Homo sapiens: one gene and its partner. The protein of the gene in region 2 purifies or fractionates together with the protein of the main gene of each other region. This does not show direct contact. Each region holds a gene or a part of one and is shown on either strand. Other genes may lie near its edges.

The links. The genes of interacting proteins can lie anywhere in the genome.
Region 1: the proteins of ZNF829 (region 2) and SMAP1 purify together in Homo sapiens (affinity purification with mass spectrometry; one large-scale study listed by BioGRID and IntAct). This does not show direct contact.

The regions. Positions count from the first base shown.
Region 1 is NC_000006.12:70,851,935-70,857,228, reverse strand, and holds part of SMAP1 (stromal membrane-associated protein 1), read right to left. Parts: intron 4,690-5,294; coding exon 4,565-4,689; intron 551-4,564; exon of another isoform or gene 371-550; coding exon 199-370; exon of another isoform or gene 1-198. UniProt on the Homo sapiens protein: GTPase activating protein that acts on ARF6. Plays a role in clathrin-dependent endocytosis. May play a role in erythropoiesis.
Region 2 is NC_000019.10:36,889,362-36,893,489, forward strand, and holds part of ZNF829 (zinc finger protein 829), read right to left. Parts: intron 3,858-4,128; exon of another isoform or gene 3,457-3,857; intron 3,111-3,456; coding exon 2,131-3,110; 3' UTR 1-2,130. UniProt on the Homo sapiens protein: May be involved in transcriptional regulation.

The DNA.
Region 1 (5,294 bases), on a different chromosome or scaffold from region 2:
AGTTCTGTGAATCCTGTACATGCCTCTTAATTTTTTAATTCTAATGCTCATTCATTTCGGCTTCATAGTTGTATAAACTGCAACAACAAAAGCACTCACTACATGGAACAATAAAAGATATATAATTGATCTTATTATATAATTACAAAGGATGTACTTCTAGTAATGTCACTGAAAGCAGATATCAAAATTCATTACCAGGAGTACTTTGCTGTTGAATGGTTCCTGTGCCATACAGAGATAAGATGGAGTCTTTGGAAAGTTGTTTCTTTGCCACTTCTTCTGATTTTGTAGTTTGCTCAGTGAATAAATCTAGATCCCCAGATGTTACTGTAGACAGGGTTGCAGCTGCTGGTGCAGAGGGTGTCCCCTGAGACAAACACCAAAATAAGCTATCAAATTCTGCATAGTAAAGCGCAGCTTATCCATTACTTAAAATCCAAATAAAGTTATAAAATTAGATAGGAATCAAACAATTGTAGAAGGTAAAATGGTGCCATTCAAGAGGATCACTTACAAGCCCAAGCCCATATAAAAACATCTACAATCAAGACAGTACTTCTTAATTTGAATCTGTTAATGTAGGTAGACTGAAGCATTTTCACAGTAAGTTGCATTTACTACCTAAGGTGACACCAAGTTTTTGCTCATCAAATCCTGGGGCTCAACAATAGTTAGAGATGAGAGGACCACCACTCCATAGCAACTACTGCTTCAAGAAACTGGTATCCTTTGGAATAAAGAACATTTCTACAACTACAACAGACTGTAAGAGGATTTGCAATGGCTACTTAAAAGGTTTTATCTTTTCAAAACCTGTATCATAGGATTTTTATACATCTAATCAGTTTTAACTACAATATTAGACTGCTTCTAATCTATCCAGAAATGAAGGTACAGCAAAACTTTGACCATCTATTGTCTGAACATATCCTGCCCTTCACTTTTGGACAAGGGGGCAAATGAACACAAATACAAATAAACATGTAGATATTTAATATAAAATATTCTCAATCTCATATCTTGCACACACTATTATACAATCACAACTGCTAACCTTAATCATCTCCGTAGTCACTAAACATTAAATCACATTCACATGTTATATGGACTTGTTTTGAATATGAAGAGAGTTTCAAAGAATTCTATGAAGACTAGTAAAAGCTGGCTGATCCTTCTCAAACTACAGAATAAGGTGAGTTGCAAGTGGAAATTAAATTCAAACATTTAATGTCCTCCTAGAACACCATGCAATAAGTTACCATCCAAACATTGTACTTATAAACTACACAGTATTTTGAATCTTATGACTAAGCAAGAATTGTAAGCGACAAAAAGCCGCTTAATTTTCCAAAAATTCAAATATGTAAGAAATTAGATATCATGGAATACTAAATATCACAATACCCCTGAATAAAATATATCTAAGCTACCAATGAAGCAGCAGCAGATCATAGAGCTAAGAGCATGGGCTGGAGCCTGTCTGCCAGGACTAGAGCCTGCCCCCATGACTTTCTGTGGTACACTCAGACATGTTACTTTACTTCTCCTTTCAGTCTCTCTCCTATAAACTTGGGATAAGCTTAATGATCACAAAAGTGTTCTGCACAATGGTTGGATTAAGTACTTGGTGTTTATTGTTAATATTGTTTATAAAACAAAGCAACTACATCACTAAGTGATCTTTTTATCACACTTAGTATCTGTTCAACCTAAAAGTCTGCTGAAAACCCTGGGGTCTATTCCCTGTGGATAAGAGACAACTATAAGAAAACCCAAAATGTTGGGAAGCTATGATTCCACTCTCATAGTAGAGCAGCCTAATATTCACATACTGTAAACATCATAATATGAAATATCTACCTCAACAAGGACACAGTCTAAAAACAGCCAAACCAATCAGCAGGACTAGTAAGCACTCAAATGTCCACTTACTTTCTGGTGCTCCACTCGCCAGCACTACGACCCCAGGATAAAAGGGAAACAACTTCTGCCTCTCATTTTACACTTCAGGAAGCTGCAGAGCATCTAATCGAAGGCTCTCTGGCCTTCTGGGACCCAAGGGCTTAACCAAGAAAAAACAGGACTTAGCCCTTGTGTATGTCTAGGTACTGTTGGTATATGTATATGTATATGTATATGTATATGTATATGTATATGTATATGTATATGTATATGAAAGAACAGGAAAGGGGTTTCTCCATGTCAACAATGAAGACTCTGGAACTGTTCCTCTCCAGCCCCCAAAACACAGGTACACTCCTGTCAGCTAAGTATTTCTAACTAACCCCTTTAAGAAAGACTAGACCCCAGACAGGTAAGGCAGATGGTAAAATCAATCTATTTCATATTCATAAGTTAGAAAATATTGTACTAGAATTTGTATATACTCAGAAAATAACACAAGGAGTGAAAGAATACAGGGTTCAGAAGAATTCAAAATCTTGGTGTCCACAACTAGTTTGAGCTCAACTTCACATATTAAAAACCCACCAAAATGACTAAATTACATGGTAGCAATATATGCATAGAATCTGTAGTTTCAGCACCATCCCCCATTTTCAAAGGCATTATTTTGAAAATATGTCTGGATTTTTTTTTTTTTCCAGACGAAGTCTCACTCTTGTCCCCCAGGCTGGAGTGCAATGGCGTGATCTCCGCTCACTGCAACCTCTGCCTCCCGGGTTCAAGCAATTCTCCTGCCTCAGCCTCCCGAGTAACTGGGATTACAGGCGCACGCCACCACGCCCAGCTAATTTTTGTATTTTAAGGAGAGATGGGGTTTCACCATGTTGGCCAGGCTGGTGTTGAACTCCTGGCCTCAGGTGATCCACCCACCTCAGCCTCCCAAAGTGCTGGGATTACAGGCATGAACCACCATACCTGGCCAAATATGTCTGGATTTTAATCTCTACATGAAGTTTAGACGAAAGATACTACTGTTCACCAAATATTTTACAGGGCTCAACATAACTTGTACAGTCTAACCAGTGCTCAACATAACAGTGTTCCAAAAGAAGTATTAGATATGATTTTAAAAATTAACCCTATGTCCTACCAGGTAATGCTCAGAATGCCTAAAGTCTGAAGGCCAGCTGCCACCCCTCTTAAAGCCAGAGGCTACACTCCTTGTCATGGCACTACTTGTGCTTAAGAATTAAACGAAGTCTGCATTGTTCTACTTGCTGCTTTAATACAGAACAGAACACGTGAAGTACACTGAAACCTCAGAGGTGGGATCTAACTCTCTTAAGCAGTTGCAAAGCAACTGTCAGACCCCAGTGACAGTGCTAAATAAGTCTAGCAGGTATAACAGCCGCACTACAATGCTAGACTAAAAATAAATGGCTTTTCACATTCTGGTTGTCAAATATCCTAAATGCTTCTTTCCAAAGACACAATATTAGACAATTTTGTCACATGTACACCTATGCCTGTACCAATTTGTAAGGTAATTAATCTTAATTGAAATAACAGTAACAATATTCTCTTTTTTATGTGTGTTACAGGAGGGGAAGAAGGGGCAAAGCCATAAAATAAGCTATTTTGCTGAAAATAAACACTACTGCTGCAGACAATTTTGATAAAGATCCATTTAATCATTCCTAAGAAATCTACTTGTTCCATTCTAATGGTAACTATATAATGACTATCATAATAACAATAAATATGTGCAACAGAAATATGTTCCTAGCCTTATAAGACATTGACTTTTTCTTATTAAAACTGTCTACCAGAACAATTCAGATTTGACTCAGTTTTTCTATGGAAAAGGAAATATTTTATCTCAAAAATTATGCTGCACAAACTGCTTGTTTATTTGTAAAGTATAAACTTAAGATAGAATCTTAATGTTGTATGCTTAAGAGTAGTTTGTTTCCTGAAAGTTCATACAGTTCACATTACAAAAATTCCATGTAATGTTAAGAAGGCAATTCAAAATTTCTTCACCATTAATACTTTTATTAAAATATCCCGATCATTATTATTACTGTTCTAGATTTTTAAAAAATCACTTAAAAAAAAAAGCAAGGTAGATTTTAAGGCTAACTTAAAACATAATTTACCTTCATTTTGCCTTTATTTTAAAAAGACAGTACTAAATTTGCTAGAACTTCTGCAGTCAATATTTACAAACAGCCACAGTTTTAAAAGCTCTGAAGTAAGTGACCTTGTTGATCTCAGGAAAGTTGAGGTAGTCAGGGTTTTTCCACTTGTTCATTCTAAATACTGTTGTTTCCCTAAAGCAAGGGTTAGAACTTTAAAGACAGTGAATATTTTAGGTTTTGTGGGCTATACATTCTCTGTTTTTAATATTTAACTCTGCTTTTGTAGCAGGAAAGCAGCCACATACAGTACCTAAACCAGTGGGAGTGGCTGTGTGCCAATAAAACTTTATTTGCAAAAACAAGCTGCTGGCTTAGTTTGCTAAACTCTAGCCTAAAGAACAGGAGACTTTTAAATCAGTTACTGCTCAGAAACAATTCTTCCAAAATTGAAATTTTGAAACTTTTCAAAAAGGAAATAAGCAGTGACCATATAAAACCATATTCTTATCACATACCTGAGCTGGGGGCATGACAGTTGCAGGTAAGGGATTAGAAATCATCGGTCCAAAGATGTCCAGATCATCGTTCAGGGGTGGCACCGTTGTGTTCCCGTTGGTCACTGGTGCCACAGCAGGGCCATCTGAAAAGAATATAGATTCTCGTCTTAACGTAGAATATCTTAAATTACTTGAAACATGGCATTATTTTAAAAATTGATATATGGTTAAAAAAAAAGAACAGTTCAAAAGTTGGTAAAACATTTGTTCTCCTTCTACCTACCCCCGATCCCCTTTCCCAAAGAAACCATTTCCAGTTTTGTTGATTCCCCCAGAAATATTCTTTATCCACTGGTTTCTAGGTATATATCCAAACCTCCTTTTTAACCAATGGTATCATACTATTCACATTATTTTGCACCCTAATTTTTTTTAATAAGATCATAGATTTTTATGGTGCTTCCTATATGCCAGGCACTGTTCTGGGTACTTCACATGTATCAACTCATTTAATCCTCATAACCTTATGAGGTAAAAACTACTTTTGAGATAAGGGGCTAAGGTGGAATTTGATACCACACTTATTAATAATCCCTCTCCATAAATGTATGTGTGAGGGTGTGTGTGTTTTGGAGATAATATCATTTTTACCTACCATGGAAATAAGTTTTGATGATCTAAAACATCTGAAATGTTATGTTTTGAAGTCACAACATGGAAGAAAACTAGATAGAAAAAACAAAACACA
Region 2 (4,128 bases):
TGCTGTTACTAGTTCTTCCTTGCATGTCTAGTAGAATTCAGCTGTGAATCTGTCTGGTCCTGGGCTTTTTGTTTTTGCAAGATTTTTTTCTATTACTGATTCAATTTCAATACTCAGTAGTCTGTTGAGGATTCCTATTTCTCCCTGGTTCAATCTTGGAAGGTTATGTGTTTCTAGGAATTTATCCACTTCCTCTAGGTTTTCTAATATGTGCATATAGTTTCTGCTGATATTTTATATGTCTGTGTTATCAGTTATAATATCACCTTATCATTTCTGATTGTATTTATTTGAATCTTCTTTTTTTCTTGGTTAATCTAGCTAGTGGTCTGTCAGTTTTATCTTTGCAAAGAACCAACTTTTTCTTTTATTGATCTTTTGCATTCCTTTGTTCTCAGTCTCATTTTTGCCTGCTCTGATATTTGTTATTGCTTTTCTTCTGCCAGCTTTGGGTTGAGTTTGTTTTGTTTTTTCCTAGTTCCTTGAGATGTGACGTTAGGCTATTCATTTGAGATTTTTCTATCTTTTTGGTGTAGGCATTTAATGCTATAAAATCCTCTCTTAGCACTGCTTTTGCTGTATCTCAGATGTTTTCATGTGTTTTGTCTCTATTTTCATTTATTTCAAAAAATTTTAAATTTCCACCTTAGTTTCATCATTGATCCAAAAATCATTCAGGAGCAAGCTGTTTAAATTCCATGTATCTGTTTTGAGAGTTCCTCTTGGTATTGATATCTAGTTTTATTCCACTATGGTCAGAGAAGATGTTAGATATGATTTTGTTTTTTTAAAATTTATTGATACTTGCTTTGTGGTCCAGTATATGACCTATTTTTGAGAATGTTCCATGCACAGAAGAGAAGAGTATATATTCTGTGGTTGTTGGGTAGAATGTTCTTCAGATGTCTGTTGGGTCCATTTGGTGTAGAGTCCAATTTAAGTCCAGAGTTTCTTTGTTGATTTCTGTCCCAGTGATCTGTCTAGTGCTGTCAATGGAGTGGTGAAGTCCCCTGCTATTGTTGTATTGCTGTCTATCTCTTTTCTTAGGTCTAGTAGTATCTGTGTTATGGATCTGGGTGTTGCAGTGTTGGGTGCATACATATTTAGGATTGTTTTATCTTCTTGTTGAATTTATCCTTTATCATTATAAATGACCTTCTTTGTCCTTTTTAATTTTTGTTGGTATAAAGTCTGTTTTGGCCATCACGGTGGCTCACGTCTGTAATCCCAGCACTTTGGGAGGCTGAGGCGGGCAGATCACTTGAAGTCAGGAGTTCAAGACCAGCCTGGCCAACATGGTGAAACCCCGTCGCTACTAAAAATACAAAAAAAAAAAAAAAAAAAATTAGCCGGGCATGGTGGCGCATGCCTGTAATCCCAACTACTTGAGAGGCTGAGGCACAAGAATCGCTTGAACTCAGGAGCTGGAGGTTGCAGTGAGCTGAGATCACACCACTGCACTCCAGCCTGGGCAACAGAGCGAGACTCTGTCTCAAAATAAAATAAAATAAAATAAATTTGACTAACAACTTATGTATAAAAGGAAATTACAAATATATTAGACAAAATCATTCTAACAGGGTATTATGGGTTGAACTGTATCCCCTAAAAAGATATGCTGAAGTCCTAACCCCTGGTACCGGTAAATGTGACCTTACTTGGAAACAGGGTCTTGGCAGATATAATCAAGTTAAGATGAGGTCACCAGGTAACCCCAATCTAACCTGACTGGTGTCCAAATAAAAGACATACACAGAGATACACAGCGAGAATGCAATGTGAAGATGGAGGCAGAGATTGGAATGGTGTATGTAAAAGCCATGGAATGCCAAGGACTGCCAGCTGTTAACAGAGGTTAGGAAAAAGGCATAGAACAGATCCTCAGAGTCCTCAGAAGGAACCAAAACGATCAGCACCCTTGAGTTTAGATTTCCAGGCTCTAAACTATGAGAGAATAAATTTCTCTTGTTTTAAGCCACCAAGGTTTTGGTACTTGGTACTTTGTTATCGTATCGTTTAAAAACGAATACATAGGAGAACCTTTGATAATATGTATCCTAATTTGTTCTCCTTACCTGTTTTAAAAAAATTATTATAAAGGTTAACAAAATGGTCTTACTTTACTGTCATTCAACCAGTATGAATTCCCTCATGGCGAATGAGGTCAGAGCGACTACCAAAAGCCTTTCCACATTCCTTACAGTCATAGGGTTTCTCACCAGTGTGAATTCTCTGATGTCGAGTAAGATTTGAGCCTTTATTAAAGGCCTTCCCACATTCATTACATTCATATGGTTTTTCATCTGTATGGATTCTCTGATGTTGAATAAGTTCTGAGCTCTGAATAAAGGCCTTTCTACATTCTTCACATTCATAGAGCTTCTCACCAGCATGAATTCTGTGATGGTTAGTAAGTGTTGAGGCACTATTAAAGGCCTTCCCACACTGCTTACATTCATAAGGTTTCTCACCAGTATGCATTCTCTGATGCTGAATAAGCCTTGAGTGTTGAGTAAAGGCTTTCCCACATTCTTTACATTCATAAGGTTTCTCACCAGTATGAATTCTCAGATGTAGAAAAAGTTGTGAACTTTTAGTAAAGGCTTTTCCACATACTTTACATTCATAGGGTTTCTCACCAGTGTGAATTCTCTGATGATCATTAAGGTTTGAGCAATACTTAAAGGCTTTTCCACATTCCTTACATTCATAGGGTTTCTCACCAGTGTGAATCCTCTGATGTTGAGAAAAATATGAACTACAACTAAAAGCCTTGCCACATTCCTTACATTCATAGGGTTTTTTACCAGTGTGAATCCTCTGATGTCGAGTAACGAGTGAGCCACGACTAAAGGACTTCCCATACTCCTTAGATTCATAGTGTTTTTCACCAAAATGAATTCTCTGATGTTGGATAAATTGTGAGTTTTGATTAAAGGTCTTTCCACATATCTTACATTCCCATGGTTTCTCTTCACTCATAGTTTTTTGAGGTGGAATAAGAAATGTGGGCTGAATAAAAGTAGACATGTCTTCACGGGTAATTATTACTTGACTGAAATGTCTCTTCTTTAGAGATAATATTTTGGTCTCACACATTGATTCCAGATCTGAAAGAAAATACAAAGGCAAATAAATTTTCCTATTCTGGGCAAGTTAAAACTTCTAAAAAAGAAATGGGAGAATTAAACTGAAAAGAATATCTGAGAAATTACACAGTTTTCAAAGGTGGAGAGGCAATCTGTAAAACTGACAAGAAAAGCACAGACATTAGGAGAGGTAATAAAAGAAGCTGAGGATGTGGATTCAGAAAGTAGATGACCTCTATGATCCTCAAATTTTGGTCTGAACCAGAGTCACCTTAAGCCTTGGTGAATACACAGTGTTCAGCACCATCCTCCATATTATAGAGAGATTCTAATTAAAAAAAAAAAATTTTTTTTGCCCCCACCCCAGATCCCCCACAGGCGCTGCCTGAGACCCAGCTCTGTGTCTCCTCGTCGTACAGCTTGTGGAGCTCCGACTGCAAGGCCATCAGCATGCCCAGGCAGGGGTTAAGCTGGAGGGCCATGGAGGAGGACAGGCCAGCAGGATGCCGCTTCTGCTCCAGGGCATGCACCATGCGTGAGATATTCTAATTATATACACGTTCATAAACATATGCTCACATGCACAGAGTATGATACTGTATGTTTTGCAATTCGTAGATAACTGTCAGACCTACATGAAAGGACTGTTAAGAATAACAAATGTGTTGAAAGGTTTAAATGTCGGGGGCGGGTGGAGTTCAGTGACTGTGCAATGGTATACTGGCAAATCACCAGCCTCCGACAAATCTAATATGCTGAACACAACTGGTGGGAAGAGTAGACAGGTACATCTCTTCTGTGCATACAGCATGATATGGGCTAGGAACTCACTGAAAATAATTTGCTCTGGAATTCTGTGATGTTGACCTTGGGAGAAAGAAATGAATAATTCAAGTCATAGCAGTGATTGAGAAGGAAGGTGGCTCAAGTTTGAGACACAAGAGAGTTAAGATAGGATGAAATGTACTCTATGAGAAGAATGGAACTCCATGTCAACATATAAACAGTGAGCCCCAGTTCTATGCTTTAAGGCAACCTC